Linked DNA regions of Homo sapiens. The protein of the gene in region 1 purifies or fractionates together with the protein of each later gene. This does not show direct contact. Each region holds a gene or a part of one and is shown on either strand. Other genes may lie near its edges.

Region 1 (5,587 bases):
CACAAGAATTGCTTGAACCCGGTAGGCAGATGATGCAGTGAGCCAAGATCGCGCCACTGCACTCCAGCCTGGGCGACACAGCAAGACTCTTGTCTCAAAACAAACAAACAAATTAAAAAAACCTAAATTATATTGGTTGGTACTATCGTTATTTTGAGTTGTGAACTCTTAAGCCCCAAAATAGGAGGAAAAAAGGAAACAGAAGCTATGACCTTCCAGTTTTGTTTTGGTTTTTTTTTTAATTTCACAAAAACACCACTTAGAAGACCCTTCATTTTAAAGATGAGAAAACCAGTACTCAAGCAATTTGCCCAGTGTCACACAGCTAGGAAATGGTGGAAGTATCTGTAAAATCTCTATGTGCATTACTCTTTCTATTACACTAGACAGCCAAAGCTAAAAGAACAGTTCAGATACTAAAAGGATCTATTTTGTTACTGTGTTACCGACAGTTTGAAAACATTAATGATTCTTTTCAAAGGAAAGTGTTATATTCATGAATTACTACTATTTAAAAATTAATGTATAAAATGAGGAAAATTAAGTGACACCTTGTGTTATACACAGAAACATGCCCCTGATTCAGTGCCTCTGCTTAGCTGTAACATGTTAATCAGAACTACCTGGCATCTTCCTGAACAAGACTTTCAATAGGGGCCAGTATGCTTCGCTTCATCCAGAAGTTTTCTCAAGCATCTTCAAAGGTTGGTTTGTTCAGCAGATATTTGAGCACTATTTGCCAAATATTGCTTGGGCTAGGTCAGTAGCAGTGAAAAAGACAAAAATCCTTACCCTTGTATATTCAGGTGATGGAGGGAAGAGTTAAGTAAAATACAAGTAAGTAAAATGTTTATTATATCAGGCTGGGTGCAGTGGCTCACGCCTGTAGTCCCAGCAATTTGGCAGGCCGAGGTGGGTGGGATCACTTGAGCTCAAGGAGTTCAAGACCAGTCTGGGCACATGGCAAAACCCCATCTCTACAAAAAATTAGCTGGGCATGGGGTCACACGCCTATAGCCCCAGCTACCTGGGAGGCTGAGAGAGGAGGATCGCTTGAGCCCAGGAGGTTGAGGCTGCAGTGAGCTGAGATCATGCCACTGCACTGCAGCCTGGGTGACACAGCAAGACGATGTTTAAAAAAAAAAAAAATTGGCTAGGTGCCGTGGCTTACGGCTGAAATCCCAGCACTTTGGGAGTTGAGGCAGGTGGATCACTTGAGGTCAGGAGTTCAGTACCTGCCTGGCCAACATGGTAAAACCCTTGTCTCCACGGAAAAATACAAAAATTAGCTCAGCATGGTGGTAGGCGCCCGTAGTCCCAGCTACCTGGGGGGCTGAGGCAGAAGAATCACTTGAACCCAGGAAGCAAAGGTTGCAGTGAGCCGAGATTGTGCCACTGCACTCTGGCTTGGGTGACAGAGGAATAATTCATCTCAAAAAGTAAAAATTAAAAAAAATAAGGCCAGGCACGGTCACTCACTCCTGTAATCCCAAAACTTTGGGATGCCAAGGCGGGCAGATCACGTGAGGTCAGGAGTTCGAGACCAGCCTGGACAACATGGTGAAACCCTGTCTCTACTAAAAATACAAAAATTAGCTGGGCATGGTGGCGGACGCCTGTAATCCCAGCTACTCAGGAGGCTGAGGCAGAGAATCGCTTGAACCTGGGAGGCAGAGGTTGCAGTGAGCAGAGATTGTACCACTGCACTCCAGCCTGGGTGATAGAGCAAAACTCGGTCTCAAAAAAATAAAAATAAAAATTAATACATCAACTGGTAAATGCTGTGGAGAACTATAAAGCAGGGAAGGGCAATAGGTAGTGTCAAGACGTAGGATTGGACTTACAAATGGCAGGGGATCGGAAGTAGGTAACTGAGGGAAGAGCAGTAAATATGGAAACAGGGAAATGGTTCCAAGATGGAACCATTCCTAGCATGTTTGAGTAATCACTGAGATTCTTCAATAACTTCAATTTTTTCTTTAATGCAACACTTTTTAGTTGAAGTCTGGTCACTAAAACACAGAATCAGCAGGAAAGGTTATTACTTTGCCCGTGTACAATGAAAGGCAGTGGGGATTTTAAGGCAAGGAAAAAAATACGGTCCTGGCTCTCAAGTCTACTGAGACAAAGACAAGTAAACACACAATTTTAATTCACTGTGAGAAGAATTATGATGGAAGTGTGCACAGGGTGCTTACTATAGGAGCATTAAATCAGACCGTAGAAGGGTAAAGGAAAGCTTTAAGTTGAATTTTGAATGTTGAGGTAAGTTTCCTAGATAGGAAAGTAGTAAGAGCTAGAATTCTAGGCAGAGCATACACAAAGGTGTGGAACTGTGAAAAGTATGTGGTGTTCATAAAACTAAGTTGGAAGGTAGATTTATTTTCTCCATATAAAAACAGCATTCCCACGGTAATTAGTGCTGCTGCTTTTGCTATTTATAAATAAAAGAGGCAGTTTAGAAGGCCAAATTCTGAAGATCTAGTCTTTACCTGCTCCTCTTTCAGATATTTTTCTCATGGAATAAGATTAAGTGGTAGGTTGAAATATATCACTAGTTTGTGTTCAGTGGTTTCTTTTGTACATTGTATAGCCATTTAATACTCTTACCAGCAATAATATCACTTCAGAGTTATTAGTTCATCCTTTCTGTATAGTTTGATGTGGTAATGGAAAGCAGATCTTTTTTGTTTGCTCCTTTCAAACAATCCCCATTATTTCATACTGGGATTGACTAAAATCTGATGATACATATATATATTTTTAATTTTGTCTTTTGGTTCTATTTTCTTTGTAGATACTGAAGTACTCTTTCCCAGTGGGACTAAGAACCAGCAGAACAGATATACTTTCTCTCAAGATGTCTCTCCAGCAAAACTTTTCCCCATGTCCAAGGCCTTGGCTTTCCTCATCATTTCCAGCGTATATGAGCAAGACACAGTGCTATCATACATCCCCCTGCAGCTTTAAAAAGCAGCAGAAGCAAGCACTTCTAGCCAGACCCTCAAGCACCATCACTTACCTAACTGACAGCCCAAAGCCAGCATTATGTGTAACTCTGGCAGGACTAATCCCCTTCGTTGCTCCACCACTGGTCATGCTGATGACAAAAACTTATATTCCCATATTAGCTTTTACTCAGATGGCTTATGGAGCCAGTTTCCTATCTTTCTTGGGTGGGATCAGATGGGGTTTTGCTCTACCAGAAGGTAGTCCAGCCAAACCAGACTACCTTAATTTAGCTAGCAGTGCAGCTCCTCTTTTCTTTTCATGGTTTGCCTTCCTTATTTCTGAAAGACTTAGTGAAGCCATAGTCACAGTAATAATGGGTATGGGAGTAGCATTCCACCTTGAACTTTTTCTCTTACCACATTATCCCAACTGGTTTAAAGCCCTGAGGATAGTAGTCACTTTATTGGCCACTTTTTCATTTATAATCACTTTAGTAGTTAAAAGTAGTTTTCCAGAAAAAGGACATAAGAGACCTGGTCAAGTATAAAAAATATAAAAGTCTGGGAAGTGAGGAGCACCTCTGCCCAGCTGCTGCCCCGTCTGGGAAGTGAGGAGCGCCTCTGCCTGGCCGCCTGACCATCTGGGAAGTGTGACAAGCGCCTCTGCCCGGCCGCTGTGCAACCTTCCACGTGTGAAGTGACAGCCTTGTGTGTGATCTTTTCTGTCTTCCCCAAGTTTGCATTTTCGACATTAAAGTTTACTTTTTAGTTAAAAGTTTTAAAAATATATATATATAAATACACTGTAGATAACATTTGTATGCCAGCTACACCTTTTTCTACTTCTGTTTGGCTTTTTTTCCCCACACCAATGGTAATTTATCTTCACAGATTGTTCTTCATTTCTAGAAATTGTTACTTCATGGTAATTACTTGAGCAAAAGCTTGAAAATCCCTGACAAGTACTTTTCATCTCATAGTATATTAGTTTTCACTCAGTCATTTTATGAATAATATAGTTATCCACTTAAACATTTCAATATTTTAACCATCTTGAAAATTAAAGATTAAAAATCCCCTTTGTTAGAGTCTTGTGATCATTGAAAAGAATGCACATATTCTCCCACTTCAAGCGGAAAACCTCGTATCTGTGAGTATCTGAAAAGAAAAGGTAGTTCCATTGAGTTTTCACAGGAGTTACCACTGGGAAAGGCATGTCCAAACTTATTTCACATGGTATAACCCAATTATATGAGCTAAAAGGATCTATGGCTCTAAAGTCAGTAGGGAGCAGTGTCATGAGGGAAAGCCACATTCAAAGGTAAGTTGGACATGTTTTCCAGTTTTTATTAGGATATTTGGCATGGTACAGATAACAACTTGTCCCTTACCACCAAACACATAATAGCTGGTCAAAATGATTATTTTCAAAGGAAACTATTTAAAATAAAGCCACTAGTACATATAAATTAGGAAAGAAAAGTCAAGCTGGAGCCATCTTGATATTCTAATGAGCAGGCCTATCTAGTTCTACATCTTTTTTTTTGAGATGGAGTTTCATTCTGTCGCCTAGGCTGGAGTGCAGTGGCACGATCTTGGCTCACCGCAACCTCCACCTCCCGAGTTCAAGCGATTCTCCTGCCTCAGCATCTCTAGAGTAGCTGGGATTATAGGCACGTGCCACCATGCCCAACTAATTTTTTGGTGTGTATTTTTAGTAGAGGTGGCATTTCACCATGTTGGACAGGCTGGTCTAGTTCTACATCTTTTAAATCACAGAGAAGCTTTTAGCTTTGGTGTGTTTTTGTTTTTGTTTTGTTTTGTTTAAACGCAGGGTCTCACTCTTGCTCAGGCCAGAGTGTAGTGGTGTGGTCATGGCTCACTGCAGCCTCGACCTCCTGGGCTCAAGCAATTCTCCCACCTCAGCCTCCTGAGTAGCTGGGACTACAGTTGTGCACCACTATGCCAAGCTAATTTTTTAATTTTTTGTAGAGACAGGGTCTCCCTATGTTGCCCAGGCTGGTCTTGAACTGAGCTCAAGCAATCCTCCTGCCTAGGCTCCCAAAGTGTTAGGATTGCAGGCGTGAGCCACTGCACCCAGTGCAGAAGCTTTCTTAAAACAGCAAAAGCAACACCTTAGATTTTCACTTGAAAACGTAGTCTCTAATCACTCTACTTAAGGTGGAGAAAAAAAGAATTAACAGAAAACCTAGTTTTCTGAAATTCCTAGTCTCACCAAAAAGGAAAAACATTAAAAATGGTCTAAGGATTAAAAATGGTCTAAGGATATAGATCAGGATATAGTATAACCTGGAATTTTTTTTTTTTTTAGATGGAGTTTCACTCTTGTTGCCCAGGCTGGAGTGCAATGGCGCTATCTCGGCTCACCGCAACCTCCGCCTCCCGTGTTGAAGCGATTCTCCTGCCTCAGCCTCCCGAGTACCTGGGATTACAGGCATGCGCCACCATGCCCAGCTAATTTTGTATTTTTAGTAGAGACAGGGTTTCTCCATGTTGGTCAGGCTGGTCTCAAACTCCCAACTTCAGGTGACCCACCCACCTTGGCCTCCCAAAATTCTGGGATTACAGACATGAGCCACCGTGCCCGGCCTGTATATTTTTTAGAGATGATGTTT
Region 2 (3,362 bases), on another chromosome or scaffold:
TTGTATTTTTAGTAGAGACAGGTTTGACCATGTTGGTCAGGCTGGTCTCAACCTCCTGACCTCAAGTGATCCGCCTGCCTCAGCCACCCAAAATGCTGGGATTACAGACGTGAGACACTGTGCCTGGCCAAAAAGTTTACTTTTTTAAAAAGGATCTTGGGAGTTATCAAGCAAACTGCCTATTTTTTCCCATCTTTGGCTGGTATTAAATATTCCAACACAATATTAATGGAGCAATCACTGATAACACTTTCCTGGATGACAATCTGACTCAACTAATCAAAAGCTATTAGAATGTACAAACCTTGACCAAGAAATTCGATATCTAGGAGCTTTTCCTAAAGAAATAATCAAAGATACATACAAAAATCTGCAAATGATGTAGGTTTTCACAGTTGTTTATAACAGTGAAAAGTTGAAAAAAACTTAAAAATTGGAAATAAGTGGAGGACTAGTTAGTATAATACTGAGAAGACAGAATACAATGCAGTCATAAGACATTTAAGCCATAGAAGAATATTTATTGACATGGAAAATGTTAACAATATACTTCTATATGAAATATGTAGGCTACAAAACAGTATATACAGTTTAATACCATTTTTATGGAAAGAAAAATAACCATATATACAAAATCATGCATAAGAAAAAAATAATATAAGGATGTACATACCAAATATTAATAATAATGGCTATCTCTGGATAGTGGAATCAGAGGGATTATGTAATTTTCCCGATAAATTTTCCTGTCCTCCAAACAGCATCCGCTTCATACTATTATTTCTTGGTTGTAATTAGTTTGATATAATTCTCTTCAGAAAGGCTCTGTTTCACTATATATACCTCAAAGCATACTTTTGATGCAGCTTCTGCAATTCCCATCTAAAAAGTAGATAACACTTGCTCTTATATTCTGGCATATGAAGACTATTTGTAATTAACACACTATAAAATATGTCAAAGCAGGCCAGGCATGGTGGCTCACACCTGTAATTCCAAAACCTTGGCAGGAAGATCGATTGAGGCCAGGAGCTCAAGACGAGCCTGGGCAACATAGAAAGACCCTATCTTTACAAAAAAAACTTTAAAAATTAGCCAGGTGTAATAGCACATGCCTGTCTGTAATCCCAGCTACTTGGCAGGCTGGAAGGTCAAGGCTGCAGTGAGCCATGATCATGCCACTGCACTCCAGCCTAGGTGACAGAGCAAGAACTCATCTCTAAAAAAAAATTTTTAAATAAAGCAAAATATGCCACAGCATAGATCTGATTGTAGAAAATTATTATATGGAGAACTGAAAAATCTCCTAATCAAGACAAAAATTTTAAATAGAGGAAAAAAATACTATCTATCATTAGTTCAAGTTTCCATTAAGAGTAGAGTGTGAAGTAGCTCCAAGTTCAGAGCTGGAGAATTTTGCATCTCTCCCTCTTACCAGCCAATTGACTTTAGGTAAAGAATACTAGAGTTTTTTAGTTAGTAAAATATAGTTAATAATTCTGTATAAAGGAGCAAAAGTAAGTTTCTCATTGTTTCCTATCTCCCTTCATAGGTTTGACATGTTGAAATTGTGAAATTATTTAATGTTAATAGTTTTTAACTTCTTTAATTATGTAAAATAATTAATTTTTAAATTATTTTAACAGTTAAAACACAAAGCATACTTTTCATGGAACCAAGTGTTCCAAACACAAAAAGGTCATTCTCTGATGGCTCCTGATAACATACAACATAAAATATAGTTATAACAAATATAATTTAGAATTTATATTTCAGAATCCATCCTGGTGTAAAGCTATTTACTATAACCTTACTAAAAATACCAACGGTAAGGATGTTGGATCTTTTAAAGGTAAAACATCAGAGAAAAGAGAAAAAGACCTGTTTGTCCAATTCTCTGTGCTTTCCATGCTCTAGCACCATCCCAAAGTTGCCTCCTAACTTCTGTTCCCTCCCTGGGAAGGGAAGTCCAGGCAAATCTGTGATCAGTTAATAACTTTTAACAATTGTTTGCCATTACATCTGAAAGTGAACAGTTAATCACTTATTGTTATATCTCAAAGGTAAATTTCACTATCTAAATGCCTAGAGGTAACTGGAAGATGAAAGATACATAAAGGTTTGATGAATAGAGGGGAAAAAATGGGGGGGAGGGTTGTTTCTGTTTTTCCAATGAAAAGGTTTGCTCCTTCTCTCTGCAAAATCTTGGAACTGAGAAAGCCGTCTGGAGTGCAGATGGAAAGCATGCATCAAATTGATGTAACTACACAACATACTCCTGCCCTACACCAGGTTCATTCTGCCACCTCTATCCCACTCTACGAATGTCCCATTTGCCACAGCCTAACTTCTATCATAGTTCTAATTCCTCAGTGAAGATCACAAGAAAGGTACTTCCAGGTTGTTAAAAGAAACGAGAATGTTACACCAACACATTTCTGGGGTGGAAGGAGACTACTGACACTCCATATTTATTGCTTACATTACAAGAATTAAACAAAAAAAGCAGACTAGAAAATCACTTTCTGTAATTTCACAATCACCAATTTGCAACAGAAACTGAAGCATAATATTTATGCTAACAAATATGTTGGATGAATTATCACCTCAGCACATAACTGCAGATGGATACTCCTGGATTTTCACTTAATCCATTACTCAATGATGAACACTATAAAATGAAAGGTGACATACTTATGAACTAAAATCACAAGAAGAAACTCTCCAAGATCAATCTTAAATGAGCTCCTATTCCAATAAGCCATAAAGAGCAGTAAAAGGCAATATTCATTTAACAGTACAAGAATCTCGATGACAAGAAATCAGGTATTTATATTCCTCTAGAGACATTTCTTCTCCACCTAACAAAGGCACTTGACATGTACTGAAATGGACAGTTAATTCAGGTACTGCCCTGGGCAACTGTTACCTTGCTAAAATTAGATGAAGTGGTGATTAAGTTCAAATTAGTTCTCCCAAATAAGCCTGAAACACACATGAATAGATCATAAGTTCTCTATTTTTGGCAGATGATATAACCAAGAAGAAAAGCTAATGTTGGTATCCATGCTGAACTGGCTGACTTAAGCAGTCAAGGATACTCTCTCTGCACAATATATTCCTTGATGACTATGGAATGTATATATAATTATAGGCAAATTAACCTTTCCTATAGTTTCAGGTATTAATGTTCATTCCTCTTCTTGTCTTTTCTTACTTTTTTGTTCTTTCCCAAAGCCTTAGATGACTCCTCCTGAAAAAGACACAAATCAGTGCAGCATCTCTCCATTTACATAAAGATGAAATCTTCAATCTAATCACTTAGAATATATTTACACATATATATTCCACATATATTCATA
Region 3 (4,137 bases), on another chromosome or scaffold:
CTGCTCACTGCAACCTCTGCTTCCCAGGTTCAAGCGATTTTCCTGACTTACCCTACTGAGTAGCTGGGACTATAGGTGCGCACCACCACACCCAGCTACTTTTTTTGTATCTTCAGTAGAGACGGGATTTCACCATGTTGGCCAGGCTGGTCTCGAACTCCTGACCTCAGGTGATCCATCCGCCTCAGCCTCCCCACGTGCTGGGATTACAGGTGTGAGCCACCGCGCCCGGCGGAGACACGGCATATTTGATAAACTGAGAAGAGTCAGCATGGGGAGAACTAAGGGATAGCAGTACAAGGCATACCTGAAGAAGGGGTCATGCTGGAGGGTCTCAGAGGCCATTTTAAGGACATTAGCTTTATTCTAAGAGCAATGGGACATCATTGATGGATTTTAATCATTGTTGGGTTGTGACAGGATCAGGTTTAATTAATCAATTTTAAATTCCCTTCTTTTCACAGGTGTTGAAAATTATAAAAATCACTTTGGTTTTGTGAAGAACGCATTAGAGGGATCACAACTGGAGACAGTCACGGGAGTTTGGAGTTACTGGAGAAATTCTGCCGAGAGGGGGTAAGTGCATGAATTGTGGCAATGGGGATGGGGGTGAATGGATGGATTTGAAAGACAATTAGGAGGTAAGCGCAATTAAGTGTATGAGAAACTTTGGGGTATGAAGAAGAGGGAGATTCCTCAGATTTCTAGCTGGACCAACAGGATGGATGGCAGCGCCCTTCACCAGGAAAAAAGTGAGCTGATGGAAGAACATAAGGTGAAATTTGAATTCATGGGGTTTGAGGTGACTGAGTGAGGATGTCCAACAGACGTTTGGCCATATTGGCCTGAAAATCAGAAGAGAGGTTTGAGATGGAGAGCCAACTGTGCCCATATGGTAAGATGCTACAGGCGGCATTCCTTCTGTCCTCCCGTCCTTCGTTCAAAATCTGTTGAGATGTCCCATAGGCTGGATGTTGGGGATACAGCAGGGAACAAGAACACTGCGTTCGCTCAACCAGTTTACCATCTACCTCTCTGAACTTGTTCTTAGTCTGTAAAATGAAGATAATGATAAGATTAAGTAAGATGAGGTCGTGTGAGGGCACCTAGCACTTACAATTTTTGTATTGGTTTCTCTTCCTCAGAGCCAAAGGAGGAGATAGTTACTTTTGCTTTTGCAGCCTTTTCCGGGCGGCTTTTCCGCGCAGGCGCCCCTGGACCTCCCAGGTTGAGAGGTGGAGCGGGCCAAACCTCAGCTGCCTTTCCCGGGGCCGGGACCCGGCCGGGGGAGGACCGAGGCGCGGCGCTGTCCGTGACGTCATCAGGCTGCGCTGCCCGCAGTACTGGACCCGAGCGCGACGGTGCGGCTGGCGGACCCGGGCTGGCTTGTGGGGAAACGAAACTGAGGGAGGAGGCGGCGGCTCTGGCAGCGGCGGCGACAGTGTCGGCCTGACCCCCCCTCCGCTCCCCGGCAGCTCGCTCTCTCCCCTCAGCGTGAGTGCCGACGCGCGGCCCGGGGGGAGCAAGCGGGCGGGCGCGCGGGCTCAGCATCCTTCTCCCCTCCACCGCCGCCTGGGCCCCCCGCCCGCGGTTATGGGTCTCCTCGCCTTCTGGCCCCTTATGTCTTCCCTCCTCCTCCCACCCCCAACGCCGGCTCCCTGGAGCCCGAGCTGCCGCTGACACACGTCTCTGCGCACACATTCACACGCTCATGTTATCTTCAAATGAAGGGACTGGCCGGGAGACATGGGAGCTTATCTCTTCTCTCTGTGATTAGGGGTGGCAGTGCCAAACCGAGGCCCAGGGAGAGAAGACTGCAGAGGGGATTTGAACCCCTTCTGTGCGGAAGCAGCAGGTAGAACCAGGCCGCTTGCCTTCCGCTTAGAAGTTCCCTGCCAGAGCATTCTGCTGGCATGTGTGGGTCACTTGAGCAGGGCACTGGTTAGCTGTGTGGCCTTCACCTCTGTGGCCGCAGTCTTTTCCCGTGGAAGATGATAGGGTTGGATGAGATGATTTGGAAGGCCCAAATCTAAGGTGATGTGGTTTGGGGAGGAGCATCCGCCTCTCCTGCCTTTCACACAGCTGTTCAACAGTCCGCTTTGAGTTTGCTGTACTTCCAGTCTCCCCCCGAGTCACTTAAGAATTAAAAGCTTTTAGCGCTTGCAATGGCTAGAAGCAAGCTCTGTGATGAGCCTTCCTTTATCTCACCCTGGGGGCCTTTTGGGGGTATTTAAGACTACGGCTTAAAGTGAAATGTGGCTTAGCTTGGTCTTGCTTTCTGTTTGCTCAGTGTCTCCGGTTCTTCCCTGGGACAGCCCCTGCCTGTATCTAGTAAGAGGCTGCTTTCTCAGGAAGGTGGCGGTTGTGCATTGGGTTGATTGGCTCTTCCTTGAGTTGGAGAGAACTGAAACATGTGATCCAGGGTTTTACGAGGTTGGGAGCATCAGTGACACTTTTGGGTTTCAATACTTTCTTGCTGTACCTCGCCTTCCCTAAGGATTGTTTCCCAGCTTGTCGCCCACCCTGTATTGAGTCCTCTTTTCTGAGTTCTCTACAGCCAATCAGTTGTGTGTAAGCCACACTGTATTCACTACTTCTCTTGCTTGCTCTTTAACTTGATAATTCGTTAAGATTTCAGGGTTTCATAATCACTTCATTCCATCTTATTTTTTTCTCGTGCTTATCTCTCATGTACCTAACCATGGGGATGGATGATTGATGGTGGCATGGTGCCTGTTTCTTTCTTTTTTGTTTTTTTGAGACGGAGTCTTGCTCTGTCGCCCAGGGTGGAGTGCAGTGGTGTGATCTCGGCTCACTGCAACCTCCGCCTCAGCAATTCAAGCGGTTCTCCTGAGTAGCTGGGACTACAGGCATGTGCCACCACCCGGCTAATTTTTGTGTTTTTTTTACTAGAGATGGGGTTTCACCATGTTGGCCAGGCTGGTCTTGAACTCCTGACCTCAGGTGATCCGCCCACCTCTTTCTCCCAAAGTGCTGGGATTACAGGCGTGAGCCACCGCGCCCAGCTGGTTTCCACTCTTTTTTGTGGAGGTGGATTTCTGTCCTTAAAATTGTTGTTTTCGTAACTGAGTTCTGTGGTATAGCTACCTCCAGTCCCAATAACTTTCCCGCTCTTGTGTTTCCTCGGTCTTAAGTCATTTCACTGCTTCCATTCCCTACTCTGCTTAAAAACTTTCCCAATTCTTTCATGTTTTCAAACATTATGAAGTAAACCAAAACCAGTATTTTTATGATATTATGTAATTTCTTAATTGTTTTGGTAAAATAATGCTGATGAAACAGTCATTCTGGGATGGTCCCTTCACCTTGGGAATATTGGTTAATATTTATTCGGTTTTATAGTTCATTTTCAGTGTACATTGTCATGCATGGCCAATATTGCATCAAAAGTGTAGAATAACTACAGGTACCAAGGCTTTATCCCCCAGTGGCTTGTGGAGTTGATCCATGACTTTCTGTTATCTGACACCAGTGGCCCAGGGCTCTCTCAGTCTGTGAGCACCACATTTTCCAGTAAAACAGCTATTATTGAAAACCAACACTTGTCTAGCATCCTTCCTAGACCTCATTCTGAGGAAGAGGCTATTCAAGTGCTGGCACTGGAAGATGTGTAGAATTGCCAAATCTCATCCCATTGATGATTTACACTTTGGAATCCCTGCTGTGATCCCAGTGGCTGTGACCCAAGGGCAGCTGACTGACTGGATTTATGGTTACAGTTAACGATGAAGAGGAGAACTGACCCAGAATGCACTGCCCCCATCAAGAAACAGAAAAAAAGAGTTGCAGAGCTTGCCCTGAGCCTCAGCTCCACGTCCGATGATGAACCTCCCTCCTCTGTCAGTCATGGAGCAAAAGGTACGTGTGCTTGTGTGGTCTGAGGCCACTGGCCATCTGGTTATTTGAACACACAGTGTCTAATCTAGGTGGAGCAGACTATAGTCCACTGCCCCTTGGTCCCTTGAGGAAAATTAGGAATACTCTACAGAGAGATGTTGGCTATAGACTCTTTTCCCTTCTGCCATTCTCCTACTAAGAGTGGGGAAACTTGTTTTAAATAAAAAATGGTAATTTTTCCAGAAGTTGCTTTCTGTTGGTTGTCCTTCAGTAGGTGGC
Region 4 (3,500 bases), on another chromosome or scaffold:
TCACGTGGCTACCATCTGGTGATTAGAGGTTCTGATTGGCAGTTAAAGTTCTTTCATAAAAGTTGAAAAAACAAGTTTTTTTAATAAGGGAAATTTCTTGAGAGGACACAACTTTTTAAATATGGTCAGTGGGGAAAAAAACTTGGAAAGGTAATGAAGAATTTGAGAACCATCAGGCTAGTCAAACCCTTCATCTCACTGTAAATGACTCACTTGAGGCCCCATGGCTAGCGAAGTACTTAAACCAGAACCAGATCCCCTAACTCCCAGTCTAAGGCTCTAGGTTTTGCCTTCTTTTTCTTTCTTTCTTTCGTATTATTAGGCTTTTTGTTCAAATGCTTGGGGTTGATTATAGGATATGTTCATTTCAGGCAAATTCATAATTCTGAAATGTAGCTAATGATAGTGCTCTAGAAATTATTCTGATTTTAGTGGTCTTTTACCTTGTGGAAGAGAATTTATTCCTGAAAAACCTGTGGTAGTATGAATCATCTTACATCAAAAATGTGATAAACGATTCTTTAGTAGTTCATAATGCTATGATTGGGTTTCCATGTGCACATGTAAGATGTGCCTCTCTCAAGCCTTGTTGTGACATCAGCACATTACCCATCTGATGAGAAAAAAAAACAGTTATTGAAATTAATTCATACAGTTCTATACTTAAAATACTTGTAATATTCAGTTTTATGTGGTTGAATATTTAATGGAAAAAAACTCCAAGAAATTAGAACAGTAAAGAAAAAAAGCATACAAATAAAACAATGCTAATACATAAGATTGTCATTACCGTCAATTGATAGTCCACAAATACTCGGAGCAGAGAACTCAGTGAGACGTGCTCATTCTCGACCAGGAAGCTGATCGTATGAATGGTGATTTGCCTTTCAAGACACTCACCTGCTCTCTAGAGTATTGAAGTCAAAATGGTCTCATTAAATATGAAGAAATGCCTCGAATGCAAAAGTAGAGTTACTGTATCAAATTCCTTATAAAGTTGGGAATTCTTGAAAACCTGAATAGCTGTGTCTTGGAGTGTGACAGTATTTTCTGGCTAATATTCTGCCTTAGCTCGTTAGACCGTGGCCTCAGATTTTACTGTCTATTCAATGATTTTATATATATATTTTTTTGTTTTTGCTTTTTTCAACGATTAAATAAATGTAGATAGTCAGTAACATGAAGCAGCCTCAGAGAGGATTCATCACAGGGAGAAAGCATTCCCTTCTGGGTGGAACTCATGCAGAGCTTTCTGTTAGTGGAGTAATTTTTTATGTAAGAGGGTACTTTTCCTTAAGTTAAAAAGATGTGGATAGTAGAAATAACTGATTTACTTGCTAGTCAGTGAATTGAAAAAAATCTTGTTTTCTGTTTTCTTTTTTTTTTTTTTGAGACGGAGTTTTGCTCTTGTTGTCCAGGCTGGAGTGCAGTGGCACGATCTCAGCTCACTGCAACCTCCTCCTCCCGGGTTCAAGCGATTCTCCTGCCTCAGCCTCCCGAGTAGCTGGGATTACAGGCATGTTCCACCACACCCAGCTAATTTTGTATTTTTAGTAGAGACGGGGTTTCTCCATGTTGGTCAGGCTGGTCTTGAACTCCTGACCTCAGGTGATCCGCCTGCCTCGGCCTCCCAAAGTGCTGGGATTACAGGCATGAGCCACCACACCCGGCCTTGTTTTCTGTTTTCTATATATGGTTTAATATTATATCCATGTTTCTTATGGACCAGAGGAAAGTAACTGTGAGGGAGAGGTTTTGATGGGAAGGGCTGGAATAACAATTTGTTGACTTACGTGGTTAAGGCAAAGGATGATCTGTTTATCAAATGAATTGTTAAAATATTAATGGTTTTTCCCAGAATGTGACAGAGCTGAAGCTTTCTGATAATCCTGCCTGGGAAGGGGATAAAGGAAACACTAAAGGTGACAAGCACGATGACCTCCAGCGGGCGCGTTTCATCTGCCCCGTTGTGGGCCTGGAGATGAACGGCCGACACAGGTTAGTGACGGACCTGGGACAGATGATGTGGGAGGCTGGAGGAATACTGCCGGTTTTGGTGGCAGTGGTGCCGGAGCTTAGCAGTCATGTGGCTTGCTTTCTGGTGTCCTTGGGTTTGGTGGCGCCTTGGAGGAAATGGTGCTTGGTCATGAGCACGTTCATTTCCGTCAGCCATTGCTACGGGACTTCCAGCGAGATCCAGCCTGGTCTGCGGCCTTCCGTTCTTGAGGTGGGGAAACAAAACCTGAAGTGAAGTGGGATTCTGAAAAGTTCTCATGTGACGCTTATGAAACCTGAGTTTAGTTCTTAGATCATCTTTTCCTGTGGGACAGAAAGCAAAGAGCAAATGTTTCCTATCAAGCAAATCCCATTTCCTTCCTGTTACTAATTTTTAATTTTTATTATGTTTTATAGTTTTATTTTTATCCTTTTTTTTTAAGTAGAAATAAGGTCTCACTTTGTTGCCCAGGCTGGTCTTGAATTCCTGGCCTCAAGCGATCCTCCTGCCTCAGCATCCCAAAGTGCTGGGATTGTAGGCGTAAGCCACCACGCCCGGCCACTAATTTTTATTTTTGTAGAGATAGGGTCTCCCTATGTTGCCCAGGCTGGATTCAAATTCCTGGCCTTTAACGATCCTCCCAAAGCGCTGGGATAACATGTGGGAGCCACTGCACCTGATTACAAATGCCAAAAGTTATGCAGTAACAGGCAGAGTTATAGAACCTGTGGTTAATCAGTCAACCAAAGGCTCAAAAACATGGTAATTTGCCTTGAATTTGTAGCTAACAGATTCTCTGGCTGTAGCACTGGGAATCTTATGGTTGAGATGTGTGTAGCAAATGTAAGCAACCTGTATATTTTCCTCTTTAAAAAATACGGACGGTTGAATGGGTTAGTACATGCTTTTTCATAGGATGTCTCACTAAGCAAAAGCGTTAAGCCCTTTCCCCCACTTTTGAGAAGTACAGTCATACCTCGGAGATATTGTGGGTTCTATTCCAGACTACCACAATAAAACAAATATTACTGGAAAGCAAGTCACACAAAATTTTGGTTTCTTAGTACATATAAAAGTTGCCTTTAGCAGCTCACAGTGGCTCCCACCTATAATCCCAGCACTTTGGGAGGCCGAGACAGGAGGATTGCTAGAGGCTAGGAGTTAGAGACCAGCCTGGGTAACATAGTGAGACCCTGTCTTTACGAAACAAAATTTTTTTTTAATTAGCCAGCCATGGTGGCATGTACCTATAGACCTCGCTACTTGGGAGGCTGAGGCAGGAGGATTGCTTGAGCCCAGGAATTCAAGGCTGCAGTGAGGTATGATCATGCCACTGCAGAGCCTGGGTGACAGAGTGGGACCCTGTCTCAAAAAAGAAAGTTATGTTTATACTATAGTCTAGTCTTTTAAGTGTGCAATAGCATTATGTCTAAAAACAAAGTACCTATCTTAATTAAAAATTATTGCTAAAGAATGCTAGCAATCACCTGAACCTTCAGCGAGT

What was found. Proteins that work in one complex are often made in the same cells at the same time.
Region 2: the proteins of TMEM69 (region 1) and IMPACT purify together in Homo sapiens (affinity purification with mass spectrometry; one large-scale study listed by BioGRID and IntAct). This does not show direct contact.
Region 3: the proteins of TMEM69 (region 1) and CMTR1 purify together in Homo sapiens (affinity purification with mass spectrometry; one large-scale study listed by BioGRID and IntAct). This does not show direct contact.
Region 4: the proteins of TMEM69 (region 1) and RTF2 purify together in Homo sapiens (affinity purification with mass spectrometry; one large-scale study listed by BioGRID and IntAct). This does not show direct contact.

The regions. Positions count from the first base shown.
Region 1 is NC_000001.11:45,690,407-45,695,993, forward strand, and holds the end of TMEM69 (transmembrane protein 69), read left to right. Parts: intron 1-567; 5' UTR 568-662; coding exon 663-704; intron 705-2,797; coding exon 2,798-3,499; 3' UTR 3,500-4,011; downstream 4,012-5,587.
Region 2 is NC_000018.10:24,450,670-24,454,031, reverse strand, and holds the end of IMPACT (protein IMPACT), read right to left. Parts: intron 3,254-3,362; coding exon 3,185-3,253; 3' UTR 501-3,184; downstream 1-500. UniProt on the Homo sapiens protein: Translational regulator that ensures constant high levels of translation upon a variety of stress conditions, such as amino acid starvation, UV-C irradiation, proteasome inhibitor treatment and glucose deprivation.
Region 3 is NC_000006.12:37,431,884-37,436,020, forward strand, and holds the start of CMTR1 (cap-specific mRNA (nucleoside-2'-O-)-methyltransferase 1), read left to right. Parts: upstream 1-1,337; 5' UTR 1,338-1,494; intron 1,495-3,740; 5' UTR 3,741-3,746; coding exon 3,747-3,879; intron 3,880-4,137. UniProt on the Homo sapiens protein: S-adenosyl-L-methionine-dependent methyltransferase that mediates mRNA cap1 2'-O-ribose methylation to the 5'-cap structure of mRNAs.
Region 4 is NC_000020.11:56,475,127-56,478,626, forward strand, and holds part of RTF2 (replication termination factor 2), read left to right. Parts: intron 1-516; exon of another isoform or gene 517-619; intron 620-1,858; coding exon 1,859-1,998; intron 1,999-3,500. UniProt on the Homo sapiens protein: Replication termination factor which is a component of the elongating replisome. Required for ATR pathway signaling upon DNA damage and has a positive activity during DNA replication.